Linked DNA regions of Homo sapiens: regions 1 and 3 are each linked to region 2. The links come from fine-mapping of genetic effects on gene expression. A gene starts in region 2. Each other region holds a variant in brackets. All regions are shown on one strand. Distances are between the middles of the regions. Region 1 overlaps RBM23 (RNA binding motif protein 23). Region 2 holds the start of PRMT5-DT (PRMT5 divergent transcript). Region 3 holds the start of HAUS4 (HAUS augmin like complex subunit 4).

What was found. PIP is the estimated chance that this variant, and not a neighbour inherited with it, causes the effect.
Region 1: its variant is fine-mapped to the expression of PRMT5-DT in whole blood (TOPMed, PIP above 0.99).
Region 3: its variant is fine-mapped to the expression of PRMT5-DT in lung (GTEx, PIP 0.99).

What each region holds. Positions count from the first base shown.
Region 1 is chr14:22,888,556-22,896,731 of GRCh38, reverse strand. It overlaps RBM23 (RNA binding motif protein 23), which reads left to right. Exons shown (of 14, transcript NM_001077351.2): 14 at 1-3,528. Among named protein-coding and RNA genes, the nearest start is that of REM2, 9.4 kb to the right of the region's middle. The variant G/A (reference allele first, on the strand shown) is at 4,847.
Region 2 is chr14:22,925,251-22,933,426 of GRCh38, reverse strand. PRMT5-DT (PRMT5 divergent transcript) reads right to left here and starts at 3,818. Exons shown (of 3, transcript NR_110002.1): 1 at 3,675-3,818. It overlaps PRMT5 (protein arginine methyltransferase 5), which reads left to right and starts at 4,051. Exons shown (of 17, transcript NM_006109.5): 1 at 4,051-4,175; 2 at 4,812-4,930; 3 at 5,216-5,301; 4 at 5,767-5,901; 5 at 6,613-6,725; 6 at 6,872-6,921; 7 at 7,131-7,294. The coding sequence starts at 4,066. TRR-ACG1-3 (tRNA-Arg (anticodon ACG) 1-3) reads right to left here and starts at 3,726; the gene lies at 3,654-3,726. LOC124903285 (a long non-coding RNA gene) reads right to left here. Exons shown (of 2, transcript XR_007064073.1): 2 at 6,525-6,966. RefSeq lists a silencer at 3,598-3,687 and enhancers at 4,098-4,207, 6,266-7,465.
Region 3 is chr14:22,949,284-22,957,456 of GRCh38, reverse strand. It overlaps HAUS4 (HAUS augmin like complex subunit 4), which reads left to right and starts at 367. Exons shown (of 10, transcript NM_001166269.2): 1 at 367-541; 2 at 2,281-2,357; 3 at 4,774-4,916; 4 at 4,998-5,129; 5 at 5,768-5,902; 6 at 7,047-7,143. The coding sequence starts at 2,303. It overlaps PRMT5-DT (PRMT5 divergent transcript), which reads right to left. Exons shown (of 3, transcript NR_110002.1): 3 at 2,765-3,126. It overlaps MIR4707 (microRNA 4707), which reads left to right and starts at 428; the gene lies at 428-507. RefSeq lists enhancers at 1-163, 546-675. The variant A/T (reference allele first, on the strand shown) is at 3,896.

The sequences.
Region 1 (8,176 bases), 37 kb after region 2:
GAAAGAGCTGAGCAAAGATCACTTCAAAAAGTTGGATGAAGTCTATTAGTTGTTCAGATGATCTGCTCTCAAGAGCCCTTAAGGAGTTGGCTGGAGTTTCTGGAGAGCCATTAAGCAGTTATTTTTGAGAGCAATGGGTAGATGGATGAGGTGCCTGAAGACTGGAAAGCAGCCAGTCAGTGCCGGATTGTAGAAAGGAGAAACAATGACCTTGGAAATCGGAGACCCGTCAAACTTGCCAATGTTCCAGAAAGGATGGGAGTTTCAGTCAGCTTTCAGGCATCAGGAAGCCTACTTGCTTAGAATTAGTGGTGCTAAGAATTCGCCTCCTCAACTCCTGAGCATAAGCAAGCTAGGGGACCTCCACCCTGTAGCCGAGTGTCACACTCTGGAACCACACAGCATGGTTCAGATCCCTCTTCCCTCACAAACTAGCTGAATAAGCTTGGGTAGGTTACTTCACTTCTCTCACACTTCATCTGTAAAAAGGAAATGATAACACCTATCTCATAGGGATGTTGTGAGAATTCATTGAGAAAGGTTTGGAACTTGGCTCATTACTGTCCTCAGTATTTTCACTCCTCTGGATGCCTACTCACTTGATTTTCTAGCTGACTTCATTCTCCCCAACTTTAGAGCTCAAGGTTTATGGGGAAAAGCAAGGGCAGTGCAATGGTGAAAATAAATCTTCATTTTTAAATAAATAAATTGTTCCTGCACTGAAGCCCCAAGCTTACAAGGTCTTGGGTCACACACAACCTGCCTAGTTTTCAGGAAAACAGATCCCACTAGCCCAATCTCTTTATGCTTGAGGCTCTGTCCACATAGTTAGATTTTAACCAGATGGTTTCGAAAAATCAAAATGAGCCCCCCTCACAGGTACCTTCAAGGTACCTAACACCATTAGCTTTGTCTGGCAGGGGAAAAATACCAGGGCACTCAGTTTTGTTTTGTTTTGAGACAGGGTCTGGCTCTGTTGCCCATGCTGGAGTACAGTGGTGCCATCACAGCTCACTGCAGTCTCAACCTCCTGAGCTCAAATGATCCTCTTGATTAGCTGGAACTACAGGTATGTGCCACTATGCCCAGCTAAGTTTTGTATTTTTTGTAGAGATGGGGTCTTGCTATGTTGCCCAGGTGGTCTTGAACTCCTGGGCTTAAGTGATCCTCCCTCCTTAGCCTCCCAAAGTGCTAGGATTATAGGTGTGAGCCACCACAACTGCCTGAGAGCACCCTCTGTTACCACCCTTTCCTTAGCGTCTCAGCCTCCCCCAAGCACCTGTCTTTGTTGGTCTCCAGAGCCTAGCCCTACACTGGCATTTTCCTTTCTGAATAAGTATTTTTTTTATTTATTTATTTTTATTTTTTCTTTGAGATGGAGTTTCGCTTTTGTTGCCCAGGCTGGAGTGCAATGGTGCGATCTCGGCTCACCGCAACCTCTGCTTCCTGGGTTCAAGTGATTCTCCTGCCTCAGCCTCCTGAGTAGCTGGGATTACAGGCGTGCGCCACCACTCCCAGCTAATTTTGTATTTTTAGTGGAGACAGGGTTTCTCCATGTTGGTCAGGCTGGTCTCGAACTCCTGACCTCAGGTGATCCACCCGCCTTGGCCTCCCAAAGTGCTGGGATTACAGTCCTGAGCCACTGCACTGGGCCTTATTTATTTATTTTTAATTAATTAATTAATTTTTTTTGAGATGGAGTCTTGCTTTGTCGCCCAGGCTGGAGTGCAGTGGCGCAATCTCGGGTCACTGCAAGCTCTGCCTCCCAGGTTCATGCCATTCTCCTGCCTCAGCCTCCCAAGTAGCTGGGACTACAGGCACCTGCCACTATGCCCGGCTAATTTTTTGTATTTTTTAGTAGAGATGGGGTTTCACTGTTTTAGCCAGGATGGTTTCGATCTCCTGACCTAGTGATCCGCTCGCCTCGGCCTCCCAGAGTGCTGGGATTACAGGCGTGAGCCACTGCGCCCGGCTGGGCCTTATTTATGTATTTTTCTGAGACAGAGTCTCATGCTATCACCCAGGCTGGAGTGCAGTGGCATGATCTCTGCTCACTGCGATCTCTGCTCACTTCAACCTCTGCTTCCCGGGTTCAAGTGATTCTCCCACCTCAGCCTCCCGAGTAGCTGGAATTACAGGCACCCACCACCATGCCTGGCTAATTTTTGTAATTTTTTTTAGTAGAAATAGGGTTTCACCATGTTGGCCAGGCTGGTCTCTCTCTTGACCTCAAGTGATCCACCCACCTCGGCCTCCCAAAGTGCTGGGATTACAGGCGTGAGCCAATTGCCCGACCTGAGTAAGTATTTTAAATCAGCACAGGTCCTCTGCTTAAAGTCAAGTTGTAATTTGAACACAAAAATGGAAAATCATGCAGTAAAATACCATCGTGGAGCTTCAATTGCCAATCTGTCCCCCAACCTTCCATCAGATGACAAAACCCAAAAAAGTGTTACCCGTGAGTCCTATGGAAGGCACGTTGGACTTTGTAGACCATAACTTAAATTTTTATCTCCAAATGGTGCTGTGCTTTGAGAGTTTAGCAAGCTGCTTTGATGCCTAAATAAAGGGCCAGGACATAGGTTGCAAAAGGCATTACTACTTCCACCGCTTCTCTGTATAATGCTTGAGAAATTACAAAGATCTTTGCTCTTTTATTTAGTCCTCATGACTTCGCTATAAGGTAGGTATTCTTCATTTTAGAGTTGGGATAGCATAGCTGAGTTCAGCAAACCAGACAGGTTAAGAGTGACTTCATCCACAGACCCCCATCCAGGAAACATCCTGAGCACTAATTGAAAAGCATTCAAGGGCTTACTGAATTTGCATTCACATCTGGAGTTTTCAAGGCCACTAAGCTGTGGAAACTTGACATCAATATTCAAATAGATGAAAAGGGACCTTAAGCATATCCATCAGGGAGTCACCGAGATGATAAAGGCCTGAGAAGCAGTATGCTCTTGTCCGGCATTTGTGTCCTTTGACGACTGCACCATCCACCCAAATTTTGCTGCCTTCTTTATAGGAAGGGCCTTTTCCTCATGTGGTGGGCTGCCCACTGTTTCTTCTCTGTGCATTTGCTCATGTAGTTTGACCACAAGGAATGCTTTTCCTTCTTTCTCTCAACTATCTATAGCCTACATATCCTTTAAGGCCCAGTTTCTAAAATATGTCTTCCAAATTTACTGTTTCTTCCATTCAGAATTCCTGGAGCACATGAGGTAGCCCCCAGTTAGATAGAATGTGGTATTGTTTGCTGCTATTTTGCCTGTTTTGTGCTGTATCACCTCATCCATCTCCCCAGCTTAATTGCAAGCTATTTGACGGGCAGAAATTGTGTCTTATTTGTATTTGTTTTCCCCATTGGGCCCGGCACACTGATTGGCATATTGCAGATGTTTAGTACTTGAGAGAAACAAAATGTCTTCTAGCATTTGTGGATGAAAGATTAAAATGTCCAGGAAAATTTACTTAGATTGATGTGGATTGAAACTATATTAGATTAATAAAAAGATGTGTGTGTGTGAACTTCCTGGGAGTGAGGGTTTAACCCAGAGGACTTCCACGTATGACCCCGGCAGTCTTTCAGAAGAGAAGAGCCCCTGTTCCAGTCTCTCTAGAGGGCTCAGATGCAGCACGGCCTAAAAGCTCATCTGTAGGCAGAGGCCCAGAGTGGAAAAATTTCCAGATGCAGGACTCCCCCGTTCCTCTGACCCTCAGGGGAGAGCACACAAAGTCTATGCTCTGGGCCAATGAGGCGGTCTTGTGGGCAAAGGGGAGTGGGAGTAGCAGGGGCTGGGCAGGGGCTGGTAAGGGAACACGGACTCCAAGACAAAATTGCAGTGGTTAAGAGATGCATGAGGACAGAAAGGACCTTACCTGGCATGGCAGCTCAGGTCCCAGTGCCCTCTGCTGACCTCTCACCCCAGCCAAGATCAATGGCTCTACTTTGCCTTGAGAGAGAAAGAGAGAATGGCCTGGCTCTCAGAGAAGGCCTCACCTCTCCCAAGTCTGGCGGGAGCCTGGCTTCAGCTTCCGTCTGTTCTGAGCTATTCCCTGTAGGCGTCTGGAGGGAACACACAGATGGGTCGGGCTGATGGGACTGGCTGAGTTGGGGGAGGGAGGCTCATGGTGTGTGGCTCCCCTCGTGGGGGAGGTCTTGCCATCATGGTCTTCCATACACGAAAGACATGTTTTAAGCTTCTGCCACGTAAAAGGCACTGGGCCTTTCTTGTTCCTCATCCTCCTCTCTGGCCACATCTGACCATTGGTGATACTCTCCTAGAAACCCCTCCTCTGGCAGCAGTCACAACAGGCTCAATCCTAGTTCTCCCACTACCTCTTTGGCAGCTGCTTCTCCACCTTCTCCATCTATATATCCCCAGGATCTCCTTGTTCCCTCTTCTTTCTCTGGACCCCTAAGGCTTTGTTTTAAATTATTTTGTTTCTTTCTTTTTTTTTTTTTGAGACGGAGTCTCTCTCTGTCGCCAGGCTGGAGTGCAGTGGCATGATCTCAGCTCACTGCAACCTCTGCCACCCAGGTTCAAGCGATTCAGCCTCCCGAATAGCTGGGATTACAGGTGCCCACCCCTGCGCCTGATTAATTTTTGTAGTTTTTAGTAGAGATGGGGTTTCGCTATCTTGGCCAGGCTGGTCTTGAACTCCTGACCTCATGATCCACCGGCCTTGGCCTCCCAAAGTGCTGGGATTACAGGCGTGAACCACTGTGCCCGGCCTATTTCGTTTCATTTTTGAAGTGGTACTAAATGACACAGTTAAAAGTTCCAAAGGTAGGCCAGGCGCGGTGGCTCACGCCTGTAATCCCAGCACTTTGGGAGGCTGAGGT[G/A]GGTGGATCATGAGGTCAGGAGTTCAAGACTAGCCTGGCCAAGATGGTGAAACCCCCGTCTCTACTAAAAATACAAAAATTAGCTGGGCGTGGTGGTGGGCACCTGTAATCCCAGCTACTCGGGAGACTGAGGCAGGAGAATCGCTTGAACCCAGGAGGTGGAGTTTGCAGTGAGCTGAGATTGTGCCACACTGCACTCCAGCCTGGGCAACAGAGCAAGACTCTGTCTCAAAAAAAAAAAAAAAAATTTCCAAAGGTAGAAAAAGGGCATACAGGCTGGACGCGGTGGCTCAGGCCTGTAATCTCAGCACTTTGGGAGGCTGAGGCAGGCGGATCACCTGAGGTTGGGAGTTTGAGACCAGCCTGACCAACATGGAGAAACCCCATCTCTACCAAAAATACAAAAGTGGCCGGGTGTGGTGGCACATGCCTGTAATCCCAGCTACTCGGGAGGCTGAGGCAGGAGAATCGCTTGAACCCAGGAGGCGGAGGTTACAGTGAGATCGTGCCATTGCACTCCAGCCTGGGCAACAAGAGTGAAACTCCGTCTCAAAAAAGAAAAGAAAAGAAAAGAAAAAGGGCATACAATGAAAAGTCAGCTTCCCATCCTGGTCTTCTACTCACCCAGTTCCCCTTTCCAGAAGCAGCCAGTACCATCTTTTTTTTTTTTTTTTTTTTTTTTGACAGAATCTCACTCTGTTGCCCAGGCTGGAGTACAGTGGCACGATCTCGGCTCACTGCAACCTCCACCTCCTGGGTTCAAACAATTCTCCTGCCTCAGCCTCCCAAGTAGCTGGGATTACAGGCATGTGCCACCATGCCCAGCTAATTTTTGTATTTTTAGTAGAGATGGGGTTTCGTCATGTTGGCCAGGCTGGTCTCGAACTCCTGACCTCAGGTGATCTACCCGCCTCGGCCTCTCAAAGTGCTGGGATTACAGGCATGAGCCATCCTGTGCCTGGCCTGTAACAAACCCTTTTGTGAATCTGATGAAATTCATGAACCCTATTCTCAGACACAGGTATGACTACACAAATACATCAGATTGTATGTACCATTTCACAAGACGCAGACTCCATCAGTAGTCTGGGGTAAGGATCCCAGCCTGTACTGCACCTTCTCCCTTAGTATAATTGTGGATCCCCTTGCAAAATGAAAATACAGGGCTCCTTGTTCGAAGAATTTTAAGAACATAACAGCAGAACATTAAACTAAGCTTAGGGCCCTATGTGACTGCACAGGTCACCTTTTCTCCTTGCTCTTCTACTACTATCTTTATGGTAATTATTCTCAAATCTGTTTCTCTTGTCCCAACTTGTTCTGAATTTCAGATTCAGATTCAACTCTAGAGAGCTGCTGAAACTCTATATAGATGTTCTTCTAGCATCTCAAATTCAGTGTCTCCAAAATGGAGCTCCTTACTCTCACTACCTCCTCTGCCCCTTTACTCCAAGTTCTGCACCATCCTCTCACCACCTACAACTTTTTCCTCTCTTTATACTCATCCACTAAGTTGCCAAGTCCCATTGATTCTGATGCTCAAACCCATGCCTCCTTCCTTTCCCACTGCCACCCCCCTCAGGATGGCCTTTCATTATCCTCTGTATGTATCACTATTAACTGGTCCCTAAACTCAGCTCCTCAGTACTTGCCTCTGCAGCTCCAATCCATACACACCTCTCCCAGCCTCCTCTTCCCAAAAGACCATCCTAATCATGACTTCCACATTCAGATACCTGCAGTGACTCTCCCTGCCTACAGAGTTGGGCACAAACTCTTTTTCCTGGCATTTAAGGTCCTTTACAGTGGGACTCCAAACCTTCTTTTCCATGCTCATCTCTTACCCCTCCTCTTCATGTCCCTGAGGTTTCAACCCAACTGTACAGCCATCTGGTCCCTTAATGGGCCCAGTGTGTTTTCCTGTGTTTTAAAATTTGAGCTGCCTCTGTTCATGGTCTTCAGAATTTAGAACTTGCTTACTCCACTACAGCCATGTAATTTCTCTGGACCTTTCACCACAGCCACTGCACATGGCCCTGCCCATTGTGTCCCCGCATCTTGACTGCTGTCCCCTCTTTCTCTTCCTCCCATCCTTATTGGAAAGGGAGCCTCAGATGCAAAGCTGGATAAAATCATCATTAAGTATCAAGCAGAGCTGGGCGCGGTGGCTCACGCCTATAATCCCAGCACTTTGGAAGGCTGAGGTGGGTGGATCACCTGAAGTCAGCAGTTCAAGACCAGTCTGGTCAACATGGTGAAACTCCATCTCTACTAAAAATACAAAAAATTAGCTGGGCGTGGTGGTGGGTGCCTGTAATCCCAGCTACTCGGGAGGCTGAGGCAGAAGAATCACTTGAACCCGGGGGGTGGAGGTTGCAGTGAGTGGAGATCGCACCATTGCACTCCAGCCTGCGTGACAAGAGCAAGACTCCATCTCAAAAAAAAAAAAAAAGTATCAAGCAGACATGAAATCCCAACTCTACTGCTTACCGGGTAACCTCAGGCAAGTTACTTACACTCTGTTTCTTCTACTGTTAAACAGGTAGTAACACCTTATATAGGTTTTTTTTTTTTGCTTGTTTGTTTTTTGAGATGGAGTCTCACTCTGTCGCCCAGGCTGGAGTGCAGTGGCACGTTCTCAGCTCACTGCAACCTCTGCCTTCTGGGTTCAAGCTATTTTCCTGCCTCAGCCTCCCTAGTAGCTGGGATTACAGGCGCCTGCCACCACGCCCAGCTAATTTTTGCACTTTTTAGTAGAGATGGGGTTTCACCATATTGGCCAGCTTGGTCTCGAACTCCTGACCTTGTGATCCACCCACCTTGGCCTCCCAAAGTGCTGGGATTACAGGTGTGAGCCATGGCGCCCGGCCCTTTTTTTTTTTTTTTTAAAGAGACAAGTTCTCGTTCTATCACCCAGGCTGGAAGGCAGTGATTGCAGCTCACTTCAGCCTTGAACTCCTGGGCTCAAGTAATCCTCCCACTTCCTGAGTAGCTAGGACTACAGGTGCACTGCTTTTTTTTTTTTTTTTTTTTTTTTTTTTTTTGACAGGGTCTTGCTCTGTTGCCCGTGCTGCAGTGCAGTGGTACAATCACAGCTCACTGCAGCCTTAACTTCCTGGCTCAAGGGTTCCTCCCAGCTCAGCCTCTCAAGTAGCTGGGACTATCTGAATGACACCACACCCAGCTAATTTTTTGTAAAGACAGGGTTTTGCCATGTTGCCCAGGCTGGTTTCAAACTTCTGAACTGAAATGATCCTCCTGCCTCAGCCTCCCAAAGTGCTGGGATTACAGGTGTGAGCCACATGCCTGGCCAATTTTTATATTTTTTTT
Region 2 (8,176 bases):
GGCGCTCTATTTCTCTTCATTCCTTCCCTTCTTGCTCCTCTACAACTCATGTAGACAGACCCACGGTTACATGCTGTGTTTTATGGCACAGGAAAGTGCTATAGAAAAGGCTGAGAGCAACGTGGTATGGAGTTACTGAGAACTGTTCAGCATGATGCTAGCCACAATGCCGAGGCCATTTGGAATGAAAAGACAAAGACAGCACAGACCAAAGAAATTCAGCCCATGTAAACTTACTTTAGGGTCAGTCAGAAATTCTAGGTTCTTTTTACATGAATCCTTTAGAAAATTACTTTAACTGATGGCAAAACTGACATTATTGTTTTATAGATTGTCCTCTCTCCCTGTCACCCATGATGGGTTAGTTAACAACCAACAGAGCAGCTACCTGCTTGACATCAGGAGTGAGATGCCAGGAGCACAGATGGTCCACAATCTAGACAATTAGCTTCTAAAGAAGAAAAAACATCTAACAAGTCTTCTGTGAATGTAGAGTTTGGCTGGGCACAACTAGGGCAGAGAACAAGCAGACCTCCTCAACAACTCTTTCTTTTACCTCTTAAAATGCCAGTGAAAGTGGGGCGTCATGACTCACACCTGTAATCCCAGCACTTTGGGAGGCCGAGGTGGGTGAATCACCTGAGGTCAGGAGTTTGAAACCAGCCTGGCCAACATGGTGAAACCCCGTCTCTACTAAAAATACAAAAATTAGCCAGGCATGGTGGTGCACACCTGTGGTCCCAGCTACTTGGGAGGCTGAGGCAGGAGAATTGCTTGAACCCGGGAGGTGGAGGTTGCAGTGAGCTGAGATCATGCCACTGCACGCCAGCCTGGGCGACAGAGCAAGACTCTGTCTCAAAATAAAATGAAAAATGAAATAAAATATAAATAAATAAAATGCTGGTGGAGTACTCACCCACTTGCTGAGAACAACCATTTATTGGAAAGACCTGGAGGGAAGAATTCCAAATAAATTCTGTAGATACTCCAACTCTAAGGAGGGGGAGCATAGTGACTTCCTTCCAATGAATACAGTATGGAAAGTTGGGGCCGGGGAGAGGGTGGGAGAGAATCACTTAACAGTGGAAAAACTGGATAAACTACTTCTTTTCAGGTGATCAAGGTCAACATTAAGTCATAAATCATGTTCATAGTATGTACCCTTGATATGATGTGATTAAAATAGCACTTTTATTTTTTTGAGATGGAGTCTCGCTCTGTCACCCAGGCTTGGAGTGCAGTGGTGTGATCTCGGCTCACTGCAGCCTCTGCTTCCCAGTTTCAAGCAGTTCTCCTGCCTCAGCCTCCGAGTAGCTGGTATTACAGGCGCATGCCACCATTCCTGGCTAATTTTTGTATTTTTAGTAGAGACGGGGTTTCACCATGTTGGCCAGGCTGGTCTCGAATTCCTGACCTCAGGTGATCTGCCTGCCTCGGCCTCCTAAAGTGCTGGGATTACAGGCCTGAGCCACTGCCCCCGGCAAAAACAGCACTTTAACTCTGTGACCTTCCTTCCCAAAACACAGTCTAATCATGAGACAAACAGACAAATTCCAATAGAGGGGCATCCTACAATATACCTAACCAGTACTCCTCAAAACTACCAAAGTCATCAAAAACAAGGAACATCTGAGAAACTGTCATAGCCAAGAGGAGCCTAAGGAGACATAGCAACTAAATGTCATATGATATGCTGCATGGGATCCTGGAGCAGAAAAATAGTAACGATAATAGTGGACAAAAGCACCTCCAATCACTTCAGGCTTCATGGAGCTTTTTTTTTTTTTTTTTTTGAGATGGAGTCTCGCTCTCTCGCCCAGGCTGGAGTGCAGTGGCACGATCTCGGCTCACTGCAAGCTCTGCCTCCTGGGTCATTCTCCTGCCTCAGCCTCCTGAGTAGCTGGGACTACAGGCGCCTGCCACCACACCCGGCTAATTTTTTTTGTATTTTTTTTAGTAGAGACGGGGTTTCACTGTGTTAGCCAAGATGGTCTTGATCACCTGACCTCGTGATCCGCCTGCTTCGGCCTCCCAAAGTGCTGGGGTTTTTTTTTGTTTTTTTTTTTGAGACGGAGTCTTGCTGTTGCCCAGGCTGGAGTACAACGGCATGATCTAGGCTCACTGCAGCCTCCACCTCCCACCTCCTAGGTTCAAGTGATTCTCCTGCCTCAGCCTCCTGAGTAGCTGGTATTACAGGCGCACGCCACCACGTCTGGCTAAATTTTGTATTTTTAGTAGAGATGGGTTTCTCCGTGTTGGTCAGGGTAGTCTCGAACTCCCGACCTCAGGTGATCCGCCCGCCTCGCCCTCCCAAAGTGCTGGGATTACGGGCGTGAGCCACTGTGCCCAGCCTGGCCTTCATGGTGCATTTTTTAAATGCTTTGGTTTTTCCGACTTTCCTTTCCTCCTCCCCCTGCCCCGACATTATTTTGCTCTTGTTGCCCAGGCTGGAGTGCAGTGGCGTGATCTTGGCTCACTGCAACCTCCGCCTGCCGGGTTCAAGCAGTTCTCCTGCTTCAGCCTCCCGAGTAGCTGGCCGAGTAGCTGGGATTACAGGCGCCTGCTACCACGTTTAGGAGAGACGGGGAGTTTTCATGTTGGCCAGGCTGGTCTCGAACTCCTGACCTCAGGAGATCCACCCGCCTCCGCTTTCCAAAGTGCTGGGATTACAGGCGTGAGCCACCGCGCCCGGCCGGTTTTCCGGCTTTCATTCTTTTGGGGCACTTGCATTGCACCCAGGGTTCCCCAGAACTTATCCTACCCCACACCCTTTTCGTATTTCCTATGGCTCTGTCCCCAACGAGCTATGGTGATCTCAGTCGCATGGCCTCAGTTCTTTTCTTCTAGCGACCTCCATCCAACTTTCTATTACACAGCGCCCCCTAGACGTTCAATTCAGCATGACCAAACCCAAACCCTGATTTCCCAAACCCTCTTTCCGCATTTCTTGCTCACTGCATGGACAGAATCCTAGGCATCACCCCCTACTTTGCTTTCTCAGGACTCCTTGCCAGTCGGTCCCTAAGTTCTGCCAGCGGCGCCTGCGTGGGGTCTCTTGTACCGTGTTCTCCTCTCCATCCTTGCTGCCGAGCCCTCAACACCAGTGGGCCCCCTGCCTTCTGGAGTTCCCATTTACCTCCCTATGTCTTTCCTTGCTTCCTTCCTTTCCATCTCTAGCAGCTAATGACATGAGAAAATGTAGATTCTCTCTGGCCTCCATGCCAGCCAATTTCATGACTGCTGCCCACTGTAATTAATGAATTCCTTTTCTCTATCTTGAGGTGTGTGTGTGTGTTTAGGCGTTTATTTACACCTTTTGTGTTTGAAACACAAAACACTACTTCCTAGAATCACTAGGAAGTAGTAGCTGAGTTAGCAGTTTATTTTAATATGTAACATAGTAAGGTGACAAAGCTCATTTTAATAGCACCAGCCATTAACCCAGTTTTCTCAGTGTTCATATGGACGTAAATAATGACACAAGAAAAACACTTTTGAGGGTAGTTACGGGAAAAGCTGACATTACATGGCTGCATAACCCAACCGACTCAGGATCTGATAATGAAAGCGTGAAGATAATAAAGAAGCATCAAGCTGCGAAAGGAAAGGAAAATTACAAAATGCTCACGCAGCGAAGCTGCGAGGAACCCCACCGAGCCAGCCAGGAGTCGAACCTGGAATCTTCTGATCCGTAGTCAGACGCGTTATCCATTGCGCCACTGGCCCTGAGATGGCACTGTTTCTCTCCGTGATGGTACTTCAAGGTTATACTGCAGGGTTTCATGGGCGGTGTAGTCTCTCAACGGCGTTCTTCAGATAGACTAAGCATTCTGGGAGATTGAAGTTCGTCAGGAACCAGACCCTGAGATTGGTGGATCCATGCCGTACGCCACTGTGCAGCCCGCGGATTGGCAGGAAAAGCCACTCCCCATCCCTCCTGTTCGGGAGCTGTGGCAGACGCTCTGGTTGTTAAGGCGACTCGTCCCGCCTTCTGGGGCACTAGTTTGACTTTGTGATTGGCTACTAGTATCAAGGAATCCCGGCGTGGACAGCGCGAGGAGAAAGATGGCGGCGATGGCGGTCGGGGGTGCTGGTGGGAGCCGCGTGTCCAGCGGGAGGGACCTGAATTGCGTCCCCGAAATAGCTGACACACTAGGGGCTGTGGCCAAGCAGGGGTGAGGGCCGGACCTCCACGAGCGGAATGCGGGGTCCGAACTCGGGGACGGAGAAGGGCAGACTAGTCATCCCGGAGAAGCAGGGGTGAGGGGGTCGGCTAGGATGAGGAGGGGAGAGACTATTACTCTTTGGAGGGGAGGAGCCTCGGACCCAGTAACGTGAGGAAAATAACTTGTGGGAGGCCTGTGGTCACTGAGTCCCAAAGTTGGGAGAGTTGTTGGGTAAACTCTAAAGGGCCCTGGAGGTCGCGATTATTGTCTGGGAGTGGGAGGAGGTGTTAGGGGGCAAGGGAGAGAAGAGGCTAATTTTGACGGGGGAGGCATGGGCAGAACTGGGGCAAATCTGGATGTGATGGTCTTGGAAACATACTGACACCTGAGGAGAAAAAAATTCTACTTGTGGATATCCATCATTTTCTCCTTACTCATATGTCCCATGGCTGTGTTTTAGGGAGAAATTGAGGCACAGTACAGCAGAGTTGATATCCCCCAAGGTGGTCTGAACTCAGCAGCCTAGTAGGCTGAACTGATGGCAGCTGAAAGGGCTGTGCAAAATCAAGATAGCCTAAATCCAGTTGCTTGGCTCTCTGGCACTGCTGCTGTCTTTACATGATTCTGGGTCTGTCGCGGTTGTAGGTTTGATTTCCTCTGCATGCCTGTCTTCCATCCGCGTTTCAAGAGGGAGTTCATTCAGGAACCTGCTAAGAATCGGCCCGGTCCCCAGACACGATCAGACCTACTGCTGTCAGGAAGGGGTAGGGACCATCCCATATGCCCCTTAATTATTAGAGGCAATAACAACTTCTGCTTTATCGGGGCCCTCATTCTCCTCCTTTTCTGACTTGGATATATTTGTTAGTCCCTGGGATATAGATAACTTGTTTTCTCCTTGCTTCTCTATTCTGCATCAGGCTATCCCATGTCTATGTAGAAAAAACCTTTGTCTCTCATTTCTACTCTTGATTCCCAAAACTAAAAATTGAACAAGTAAAGTGCTGAACCTTATTCAGTATTTGTCTTTCTTGGGTGGGGGAGTGCAGACTGGAATACGCTAATTGTGGGAAAGCTTTCTCCATGGATTCGTCCAGACTCAAAAGTGGAGAAGATTCGCAGGAACTCCGAGGCGGTAAGACTGTTTGACTTCTCTGCTGGATTTTTCTAACCAAGCTGGGTGGGGAGAGTGGTCCCCTCCCATCCCCAATAACTTGGTAAATTAACTGATAGAATGAAATTAAAGCTATTAGGCTGGGTGCTGTGGTGCACACCTATAATCCTAGCACTTTGGGAGGCTGAGGCTGTAGGATCACTGGAGCTCGGGATTTCGAGACCAGCCTGGGCAGCGTAGTGAAACCCCATCTCTATAAAATATACAAAAATTAGCCAGGCATGGTGGTGCATGCCTGTGGTCCCAGCTACTCAGGAGGCTGAGGAGGGAGGATCAGTTGAGCTTGGGAAGGTCAAGGCTGCAGTGAGTGGAGACTGTGCCACTGCACTCCAGCCTGGGTGACAGAGTGAGACTTTGTCTCAAAAAAAAAAAAAAAAAAGCTGTTTGCTTGTTAGCTCAAACTTTTCCTCTTCATCTCCGTTCCAGGCCATGTTACAGGAGCTGAATTTTGGTGCATATTTGGGTCTTCCAGCTTTCCTGCTGCCCCTTAATCAGGAAGATAACACCAACCTGGCCAGAGTTTTGACCAACCACATCCACACTGGCCATCACTCTTCCATGGTATAGCTGAGGGGCTCCTTTCCTGCTGCATATCATAGTAGTCAGATTGTGCTAAGTACCTTCTTGTGCCTAGCCATTCAGTGAAGGGTGTGTTTGGCAGAATTGAAGTATCAGTATTGGCGGGCACAGTGGGTGATGCCTGTAATCCCAGCACTTTGGGAGGCTGAGGTGGGCAGATCACTGAGCTCAGGAGTTCGAGACCAGCTTGGGCAGCGTGGTGAAATCCTGTCTGTATAAAAAACCAAAACCAAAACAAAAACAAAAAAACACAAATTAGCTAGGTGGGGTGTCACACGCCTGTAGTCCCAGCTACTTGGGAAGCTGAGGTGGGAGGATGACTTGAACCTGTGAGGCGGAGGTTGCAGTTAGCTGAGATTGCACCACTGCACTCCAGCCTGGGTGACAGAGCCAGACCTTGTCTCAAAAAAAAAAAAAAAAAAAGGTCAGTATTGCGCACCTCTCCATCTAAAAGTGGTATGAAGAGAGTTTCAAAACATGTAAATGTAATTATTTTGGAAACTTACGTAAGACAAGGCAGATATTTACATAAGGATCTATATATAAGGTACATGTTCACTTACAAAATTACAAATTGGGAAAAGCATATAAAGGGATTAACGAGGTCTGGATGAAGTTTTTTTTATTGAGGGAAACTTTCTGGACCCAATGAGTTCAAAAGAGAGTTCTAAAAGGGTGACTGTTCATGTGCAGTTCTGGATGCGGGTACCCTTGGTGGCACCAGAGGACCTGAGAGATGATATAATTGAGAATGCACCAACTACACACACAGAGGAGTACAGTGGGGAGGAGAAAACGTGGATGTGGTATGTCTCCCTTTGCTGCTGTACCAGGGTGCAAGGGATAGGGTGAGGGGAAGTACAGGGTGCAACCTGTAGGGAGGTCTCCTTGAGCTGTGGTGATTGGTCGGCCATATCTAGTTTACTGTACTTTTCTGTATTTGACTGAACAGGTGGCACAACTTCCGGACTTTGTGTGACTATAGTAAGAGGATTGCAGTGGGTGAGTCCATGAGAATCCTGGGATGGGTGTGGCTTCTCTTACCTCCTGTGAATAAGAATCAGGAATTTCATATATAGTATACAATTTTGCTACTTCCCCTCTGTCTCAGACTGGCTTTCTCTTAAAGAAGTAAACAGATTTTGCGCAAAGGAGCAAGGAAGGGTTTCTTGCCTGGCAGTGGTTGACAGTTTTTCTTTTGCCTCATGTAGCTCTTGAAATTGGGGCTGACCTCCCATCTAATCATGTCATTGATCGCTGGCTTGGGGAGCCCATCAAAGCAGCCATTCTCCCCACTAGCATTTTCCTGACCAATAAGAAGGGATTTCCTGTTCTTTCTAAGATGCACCAGAGGCTCATCTTCCGGCTCCTCAAGGTGAGTGGTAGGAGGGTTCTAAAGGTAGTCCAGCTATACATCTTGCCTTATTTACCTGTGTATGATCGTTTTTTCCTGTGAGGCTGACTCTTTTTCTTTGGTTTCTGGGGAGCAATTTCAGTGAAGTTGGGAATCTTGAGAACAAAAAGGTAAATGCCAGTAGTAGCCCTAGAAACCTTTCAAAACAAACCAAACCTCATGAGAACTTTGCAGAAGGTTTCATTTAGGAAGTTACAGCAAGGATCCATGAGGCTGTTTGGGTGTTGATACTTTCATGGCATAAGAGGGCTTTTTCTTTTTTCTTTTTTTTTTTGAGACAGGGTCTCACTCTGTTACCCAGACTGGAGTGCAGCCATACCATCTCAGCTCACCAGAACCTCTGCCTCCCAGGCTTAAGCGATTCTTCTGCTTTAGCCTCCTGAGTAGCTGGGATTATAGGAATGCACCACTACTGCCCGGCTAATTTTTGTATTTTCAGTAGAGACAGGTTTTATCATGTTGGCCAGGCTGGTCTTGAACGCCTGACCTCAAATGATCCACCCGCCTCGGCCTTCCAAAGTATTGGGATTACAGGCGTGGGCCACCACGCCCGGCCAAGGGGGCTTTTTATAAGTTTACTGAAGCCTCATGCTGCCTTTGTTGGTATTGGGACAGACGCTAGAGAACTGTTGGTCTGGGCCAGGTGCAGTGGCTCGCGCCTGTAATCCCAGGACTTTGGGAGGCTGAGGCGGATGGATCATCTGAGGTCAGGAGTTTGAGACCAGCCTGTCCAACATGGTGAAACCCCGTCTCTACTAAAAATACAAAAATTAGCCAAGCATGGTGGCACGCACCTGTAGTCCCAGCTACTTGGGAGGCTGAGGCAGGAGAATTGCTTGAACC
Region 3 (8,173 bases), 24 kb before region 2:
CACCCCAGCCTGGGCGACAGAGCGAGACTCCGTCTCAAAAAAAAAACGAGGCAAGGCAAGCAAAATGCTTGGCGTAGTGCCTGACTCATCGTAGGCCCTCAATAAATGTTAGCAATTACCACCATTTTCTCAGCATCTGCCCTTCACTGGGGAGGCACTAATGAGAAGGGGCAAAAAAGCCTTTCCGAGACCATCCTGTTTCCCAGTCCGGGTTCCACCACCCGAGCATGCGAACCCAGGGCGTTGGGAACCCAGCGCGCACCCGTCGAGGGGCGGGGCCTGCCGTTCCCGCCTCGAGTGTGGCCCCGCCTCCACCTCCTTCGTCGCGGCCTCTAGTGCACTTTCGGCTCCTTCCCCTTCCCGGGCCTTTCAGCTTGGTCTTTCCGGGCCTCGCTTCCCCCAGCCCCTGCGCCCGGCCCGAACGAGAGGTTCCGGAGCCCCGGCGCGGGCGGGTTCTGGGGTGTAGACGCTGCTGGCCAGCCCGCCCCAGCCGAGGTTCTCGGCACCGCCTTGAGAGCTTCAGCTGCCCCAGGGTGTGCAGGTTTGCTTTAGAGGGTCGGCGGGCGGAGCTTCGGGGAAGAGGAGCTCTGGGAGAGTCATTCCGGCCAGTGGCCGGAGACCGTCGTCGCTCTTGGGAATCCTTGGCCGCCCAGACAGAAGGGAAGTAGGCGCCGGAGAGCCCGTTCTGCATTTTGATTCATCTCGGGCCCTGTAAGGGTCATATCTTGTGAAAATAACCTGTAAAATCAATTTAACGTTCAGTGCAGCGTGTAAAGACAGCTCTAAGAATTTAAAAGACGCCTGAGTCAGAACATTTAAATGCTTGGGTCCCTGTAGCAGCGTTTTAACACGTCTGAGTGCAGAGGGTGGAGAATCGAGCCTGATTGCCGTTCACGCCCTGTAACCTTTAAGAAGGGTAAAGAAAGGCACCCTAAAAAACGCAAGGGGACACTTACCCTAGGGGGGGACGAACAGCTAGCTTTTTGGAATTTGGGTTGGTCTTCATTTCCAAGTGCGAAATTTGCCTGCAAAACTTTTTATTTGCAGTCATAGATCAACGATAAACAGAATTGTTAAAACACTGAACTTAACTAAGTAGTGGCTTTTGTTGACAAGTCGATTGTGTTATTAATTCTTAATGTCTCATCCAAGGCAGGAATCGTTATCTCAGTTTTGCAGGTGGGAAAAGTTTGGCACAGAAAAAAGCATTTTCCTTAAGTTCTCAGAAGCAACGGCCGGCCGAGCTGCAAATTAAGTCCCAGCATTCTGCCTCCTCAGCTGCGTCCCCCTCTAGACCATGTTAGAAAACAAATGAGTAGTTACTTTGATGTTACTCATAAAACGATCGAGTAAACCAAATGTTCTATAAACATGAAGCGTTAAATCATAATAACCTTCAATGCCTGTTCAGCTTTGGGAGGCTCAGTTGCCCTTTGGAGTTTGATACCTTGCAGAGAGGAGGGGCAGAGCAAAAACATGAAAAGTAATGTCAAGGGAAAATTTTTGTCTCCTGAGGTCAAACTGTGCCCATCTTTACTGCCCCTGTGTTGGTGTCATTCCTTTCAGCGCACTCCATGTTCTGGCAAAACACCCACAGCTCACGTTCTCGTTGTAGCCACATTACACCTTTGCATTACTCTTTTGCCACTGACCTCACTGTCAGTCTTCTTGTCACGCTGTTTCCTCCAGGTGCTCTTTTCTTAGGCTGTTATGTGAAAACCAGTTGTTCAAGTGTGGAATGATTTGTCATTCCTGAAGGATGATTCTAGAGTTAATGATAAAAAAAAAAAAAACTACCAACAGATCTTAGACAAAAAAAGAAGCACAAAAAAACTATTATGGAATTTGATAGCTGAGTTATTTGGGGGGAAAAAGTAGACTTTGATTTTTTTCCCTTTTCCCCCAGTTCACTCATAACTGGGAAGCTGCAGCTCAGTTTTAACTTTGGCATAATGGTGGTGGTGGTGGAGAATCCTCTTGTTTAGACTCAGTGAATTGGAAAGTTCTCTTTTTAGGATGCTCCTTTTGGACAGCTTGGAGCAAGTGGAAACACATGTGTGCTTAGAATGTGACATGTTTTGGCACTTGTAAATCTGTTTGTCCATAAAGCTTGTGTAAGAGCTTGGGACCCAGGATGTGTGGTATAGGCCCTCTGTAAAAGTCATCCTTGAGGTTCCTTTCCAGCTTGTGGACAGCAGAAATTTGAACATAAGGTAGTGTCCTTGGAGCAGCCAGCTGTTTATTCATCTTTTTGTTTTCTTTCACTTCTTGGTTCCACAGATTAGAATCCCAAGAAAATCAAATGGCATCCGGGGATTTCTGCTCACCTGGAGAAGGGATGGAAATACTTCAACAAGGTAAGAGTAGCCACTTGCAAAAGGTTTGATGATTTATCCAGAGAGGTCTTATCCAGGTTCTTGCCTTTTCTAGTAAAAAGCATTTATTGGCTCACACCTGTAATCCCAGCACTTTGGGAGGCTGAGGTGGGTGGATCACGAGGTCAGGAGATCGAGACCATCCTGGCTAACACGGTGAAACCCTGTCTCTACTAAAAATACGAAAAATTAGCTGGGCGTGGTGGTGGGTACCTGTAGTCCCAGCTACTCCAGAGGCTGAGGCAGGAGAATGGTGTGAACCTGGGAGGCGGAGCTTGCAGTGAGCTGAGATCGTGCCACTGTACTCCAGCCTGGGCAACAGAGCAAGACTCCAAAAAAAAAAAAAAAAAAGGATTTATAAGTTTCCCCAGTATGGTTTTCCTCACAGAAGCATGTGTTTCTGAGGAAACTGGAATACATGAAGATCCTTGAACACTCTCTTATTGGAAAACAGACTACACTAATTCCTGTTAATGTTGGTTCAATATCTGCTTGTGTAGTAGGCTAAAAACTCAAGATGCTCCCATGCTGATGTTAGCAAGCATATTATAAAAATAAGGGTAGCCAGCAAATTCCTTGAAGGTGTCCTTCCTACCTGTGTCTTAAATATTCTCATATCTTAGTCTCCAAAATTTCAGATCCTTCTATATCCTGAGTTCTTTCCATATCTCAGATCCTTTCTATATCTTGAATCCTTCAAGAGCTTGCATTTTCTATATCTTGACTATTTCCATATTGGATGCTTCAGTACCTTAGGGAAAAAGAGAGATTTCTTATTTCCCAAAAAGACTTTGGGTATAATGTTCCAAAGAATGAAAATTTGGGTGTTTTGGCAAGTAGAGGTAAAAGACCCCAACAGAGAGCATATGGAAAAAGAAATGGAAAGAAAGCTCCTTGAGCATATGGAAAAACCAGAGGATCTCAATTTCTTACACTTTTTTCTCATGCCTGTGCTGTTTTGTATCTACATGGGTTACTCAACTCTACTGACAATTATAAGTATTTGGGCCAGCTGGCCAGGTGTGGTGGCTCATGCCTGTAATCCCAGCACTTTGGGAGGCCAAGGCGGGCGGATCACCTGAGGTTGGGAGTTTGAGACCAGCCTGACCAACATGGAGAAACCCCGTCCCTACTAAAAATACAAAAATTAGAGGCTGGGCACGGTGGCTCACACCTGTAATCCTAGCACTTTGGGAAGCCGAGGCGGGCAGATCACGAGGTCAGGAGATTGAGACCATCCTGGCTAACAAGGTGAAACCCCGCCTCTACTAAAAATACAAAAAAAAAAAAAAAAATAGCTGGGCGTGGTGGCGGGTGCCTGTAGTCCCAGCTACTTGGGAGGCTAAGGCAGGAGAATGGCGTGAATCTGGGAGGTGGAGCTTGCAGTGAGCCGAGATCGTGCCATTGCACTCCAGCCTGGGTGACAGAGTGAGACTCCGTCTCAAAAAAAAAACAAAAAACAAAAAATATTAGCCAGGCATGGTGGCGCATGCCTGTAATCCCAGCTACTCGGGAGGCTG[A/T]GGCAGGAGAATCGTTTGAACCCGGGAGGTGGAAATTGCAGTGAGCCGAGATCACGCCATTGCACTCCAGCCTGGGCAACAAGAGCAAAACTCCATCTCAAAAGAAAAAAATAAAAAAGAATTTGGGCCAGCTGTGGTGACTCACACCTGTAATCCCAGCACTTTGAGATGCCAAGGTGGGAGGATCACTTGAGCCCAAGAGTTCAAGACCAGCCTGGGCAATGTAGTGAGACCCTGTCTGTAAAAAAAAAATTAGCCAGTCATCGTGGTTTGCCTTGTAGTCTCAGCTCCTCAGGAGGTGGAAGGATCGCTTGATCTGGGGAGGTTAAGGCTGCAGTGAGCTGTGATTGTGCCACTGCACTCCAGCCTGGGTGACAGAGTGAGACCCTGTCTCAAAAAGAAAAAAAAAAAATTGGTTAGTTGAACGTTTAACTTACTCTAAGTGTATTCTGTTAGTCTTGTTTATGCGACTACATATCACATCCAAAGTTGGAACTTCACGTGTTGTGTTTCTTTCCCCCTACTTCAAGAACTCTATTAATTTTGGATGAATGAGGCATTTTGTGTATTGTGATTCCTACTAACGGTCCCTTAATTTTTATTCTATTTGTCTAATATGTACCAACTGCATTTCCGTTTCCTAAGATCTTAGTTTATTACTTATTCCCCCTTAATATCCTTGTATATAATATAAATGCTTGTTACCTTGAATATTACCCTTGTTTATTTGTGGATTTTTAAAAAATCTCATTAGATTTAGCAATCTTTCCTATAAAAATCCTAGGGGTTTTTTGGAAGTATTAAGTTATGCTCAGTTATGTAAAGTAAGAGTCCACACCTTTTTTGTTTTTTTGTACCTGTGGGGACATGATGTTAAGTGTGCAGCAAACAACTTCCTCCTTGTAACCTGAGTAAAGAGGACCTGTTACAGAACCCATACTTCAGCAAGCTTCTCCTGAATCTCTCACAGCATGTGGATGAGAGTGGCTTAAGCCTCACCCTAGCAAAGGAGCAGGCTCAGGTAAGGGCTTTGGGAGAAGAGATAAGAAGAAGGGAAAATCCTGAGAGAGAGGTTCCTACCTGAGATTTTTTGGATTTCTAGGCATGGAAGGAAGTTCGACTGCATAAGACAACATGGTTGAGGTCTGAGATTTTACACAGAGTCATTCAAGAGTTGCTTGTGGACTACTATGTGAAGATACAAGACACAAATGTAACTTCTGAGGACAAAAAGGTGAGGCAAAGGCTGGGCGTGGTGGCTAACACCTGTAATCCCAGCACTTTGGGAGCCCCAGGCAGGCTGATCACTTGAGGTCAAGAGTTTGAGACCAGCCTGGCCAACATGGTAAGACCCCGTCTCTACTAAAAATACAAAAATTAACCAGGTGCAGTGGCACACGCCTGTAATCCCAGCTACTCGGGAGGCTGAGGCAGCAGAATCGCTTGAACCTGGGAGGCGGAGATTGCAGTGAGCCGAGATTGCGCCACAGCACTCCAGCCTGGGTGACAGAGCGAAACTCAGTCTCAAAAAAAAGTGAGGTGAAAGAAATGAGGTGGGGTTGGTTACCAGTTACAGGAATGACCAGGCCAACTGTGGCTTTGTCTGATGATGTGATCTAGGGGAAGTAGGAGCTTTGAGAAATGGTTTGTCAAAAGAGAAATGGACTGTAGTTATGGGGAAGGAGTGGATGTGTTATCAGAGTTTGTAATAGAAACATTGACAGAAGTCACTCGCAGCTGAGTTATCTGAGGGGGGATGATATATTTGAGGACTTTGAAAATATGTGAAAAACTGGTTCATAAGGATGGAAGAGGTGGAGTGGGAGAAGTTTTATAGTTGCCTCTTTTTGTTTTTTATTCTCTCTCTCTCAGTTTCATGAGACCCTTGAACAGCGGCTGCTTGTAACTGAACTGATGCGGCTCTTAGGTCCTAGCCAGGAGAGGGAGATACCTCCACTGCTGGGGCTGGAGAAAGCGGACCTTCTGGAACTCATGCCACTCTCAGAGGTTGGCGGGGAGATATTGGAACCAAATAAATGAAATGGTTTAATTTCTCCCATATCTTTAAAATGTTTTTTTTGTCAAGCTTTATTGTTTTTGTAAAAATGATACACATTCAGGGTGGTCAGACTCAAATAAGAAAAACGTTACACAGGAGCAAGTAAAAGCTGAAATACTGCATCTAGAAGCACAATATTATTATAAACAGCTTGACATAAATGGTATTATACCCTTCATGCTTATATAGAGAGTATAAGGCCGAGTGTAGTGACTTCCGCCTATAATCGTAGCACTTTGGGAGGCTGAGGTGGGAGGATCACTTGAGTTCAGGAGTTCAAGACCAGCCTGGGCAACATAGTGAGACCTCGTCTCTACCAAAAAAAAAACAAAACAAAAGCCAGGTTTGGTGGTGCACACCTGTAGTCCCAGCTACTCGGGAGACAGAGGCAGGAGGATGACTTGAGGGTGGGAGGTCAAGGCTGTAGTGAGCTGTGATCATGCCACTGTACTCCAGCCTGGGCACAGAGTGAGACCCTGTCTCAAAAAAAGAAAAGTACAGTCTATTTTCATGTAATATATTTTGGATTTCTTTTCAAGTCAATACATAAATGTAAATAAGATGATAGCTTCTATAGCACTGTTAGCAAAGTATCTAGGCACATAGTGCTTAGTGTTATGTCATCAGTTTAAATCTCTGCTAGGATTCTATTATATGGATGTAGAATAATTTGCTTAACCTTATTGGTGGATATTAAGGTTGTTTCCACATTTTTGCTGTTAGAAACCACAGGGAGATGAACATGCTGGTTCATATGTGTCTTTACCTTTGTATGATTATTTCTGTAATGCTGGTGCTAAAAGTGGGATTCCTGAGTCAGTGCATACTCATACAGAATATTGGTACCTAATGCCAAACTGCTATCCAGAAAGGTATTTTCAGGGCTCCTGGATCCCCCATGTTCTCACCAACATGGGGTCTTGACAGTCATTTTATTCTTCGCTAATTTGATAGGTGAAAAATGAGTCTCTCTGATGTCTCTTGATGCATTTTCTTTGGCTATTATTGAGGTTATCATCATGTATTCATTGGCTGAGACGTCCTAGTTTTTACAGTCTATTCGCATTTCTGCCTTTACTTCTATGACTGTAGGATTTTGTGTGGATGAGGGCTCGGCTACAGCAAGAAGTAGAGGAGCAGCTCAAAAAGAAATGTTTCACTCTGCTCTGCTACTATGATCCCAATTCAGGTGAGTGCTAGCTGTCTGTTCTGCTCACAGCTGGACTTCAGGGTTCCTGGTCTGCTCTTTTGAGAATAATATATTTTGATTTTAGATTTGGGACAGAGGTTTAGAACCATCAGAGATGCTTATTTGTTTTGTTGCTGGTAGAATAAAAACAAGGACTTTTTGTTTTTTTGTTTTTTTTTTTTTTTGAGATGGCGTTTTGCTCCTGTTGCCCAGGCTAGAGTGCAATGGCGCCATTTCTGTTCACCGCAAGCTCCTCCTCCTAGATTCAAGTGATTCTCCTGCCTCAGCCTCCCGAGTAGCTGGGATTACAGGCATGCGCCACCCCGCTCGGCTAATTTTGTATTTTTAGTAGAGATGGGGTTTCTCCATGTTGATTAGGCTGGTCTGGAACTCCCAACCTCAGGTGATCCGCCTGCCTCGGCATCCCAAAGTGCTGGGATTACAGGTGTGAGCCACCACACCCGGCCAAAACAAGGACCTTTGTAAGGACTCTTTTTATTCAGCAAGATACTGAGTGGGAGTGTCCTCCTGCTGCAGGGAAGGATGAGTTCTCTCAGGAGGTTCAGAATGGTTTAGGGAGGAAAGTTCAGACTCATAGAACACCTTATACTCTCTGTATAAGCTTGGAGGGTATAATACCATTTATGTCAAGCTGTTTATAATAATGTGTTTCTAGACGTAGTATTCATATTTCAGCTTTTACTTGCTTCTGTGTAATGATTTTCTTATTTGAGTCTGACCACCCTGAATGAATGTGTATCTCTTTTTTTTTTTTTTTTTTTTTTGAGACGAAGTCTCGCTCTGTCCCCCAGGCTGGAGTGCAGTGGCGCAGTCTCACCTCACTGCAAACTCCACCTCCTAGGTTCACGCCATTCTCCTGCCTCAGCCTCCCGAGTAGCTGGGACTACAGGTGCCCGCCACCACGCCTGGCTAATTTTTTGTATTTTTAGTAGAGACGGGGTTTCACCGTGTTAGCCAGGATGGTCTCAGTCTCCTGACCTCATGATCTACCCACCTTGGCCTCCCAAAG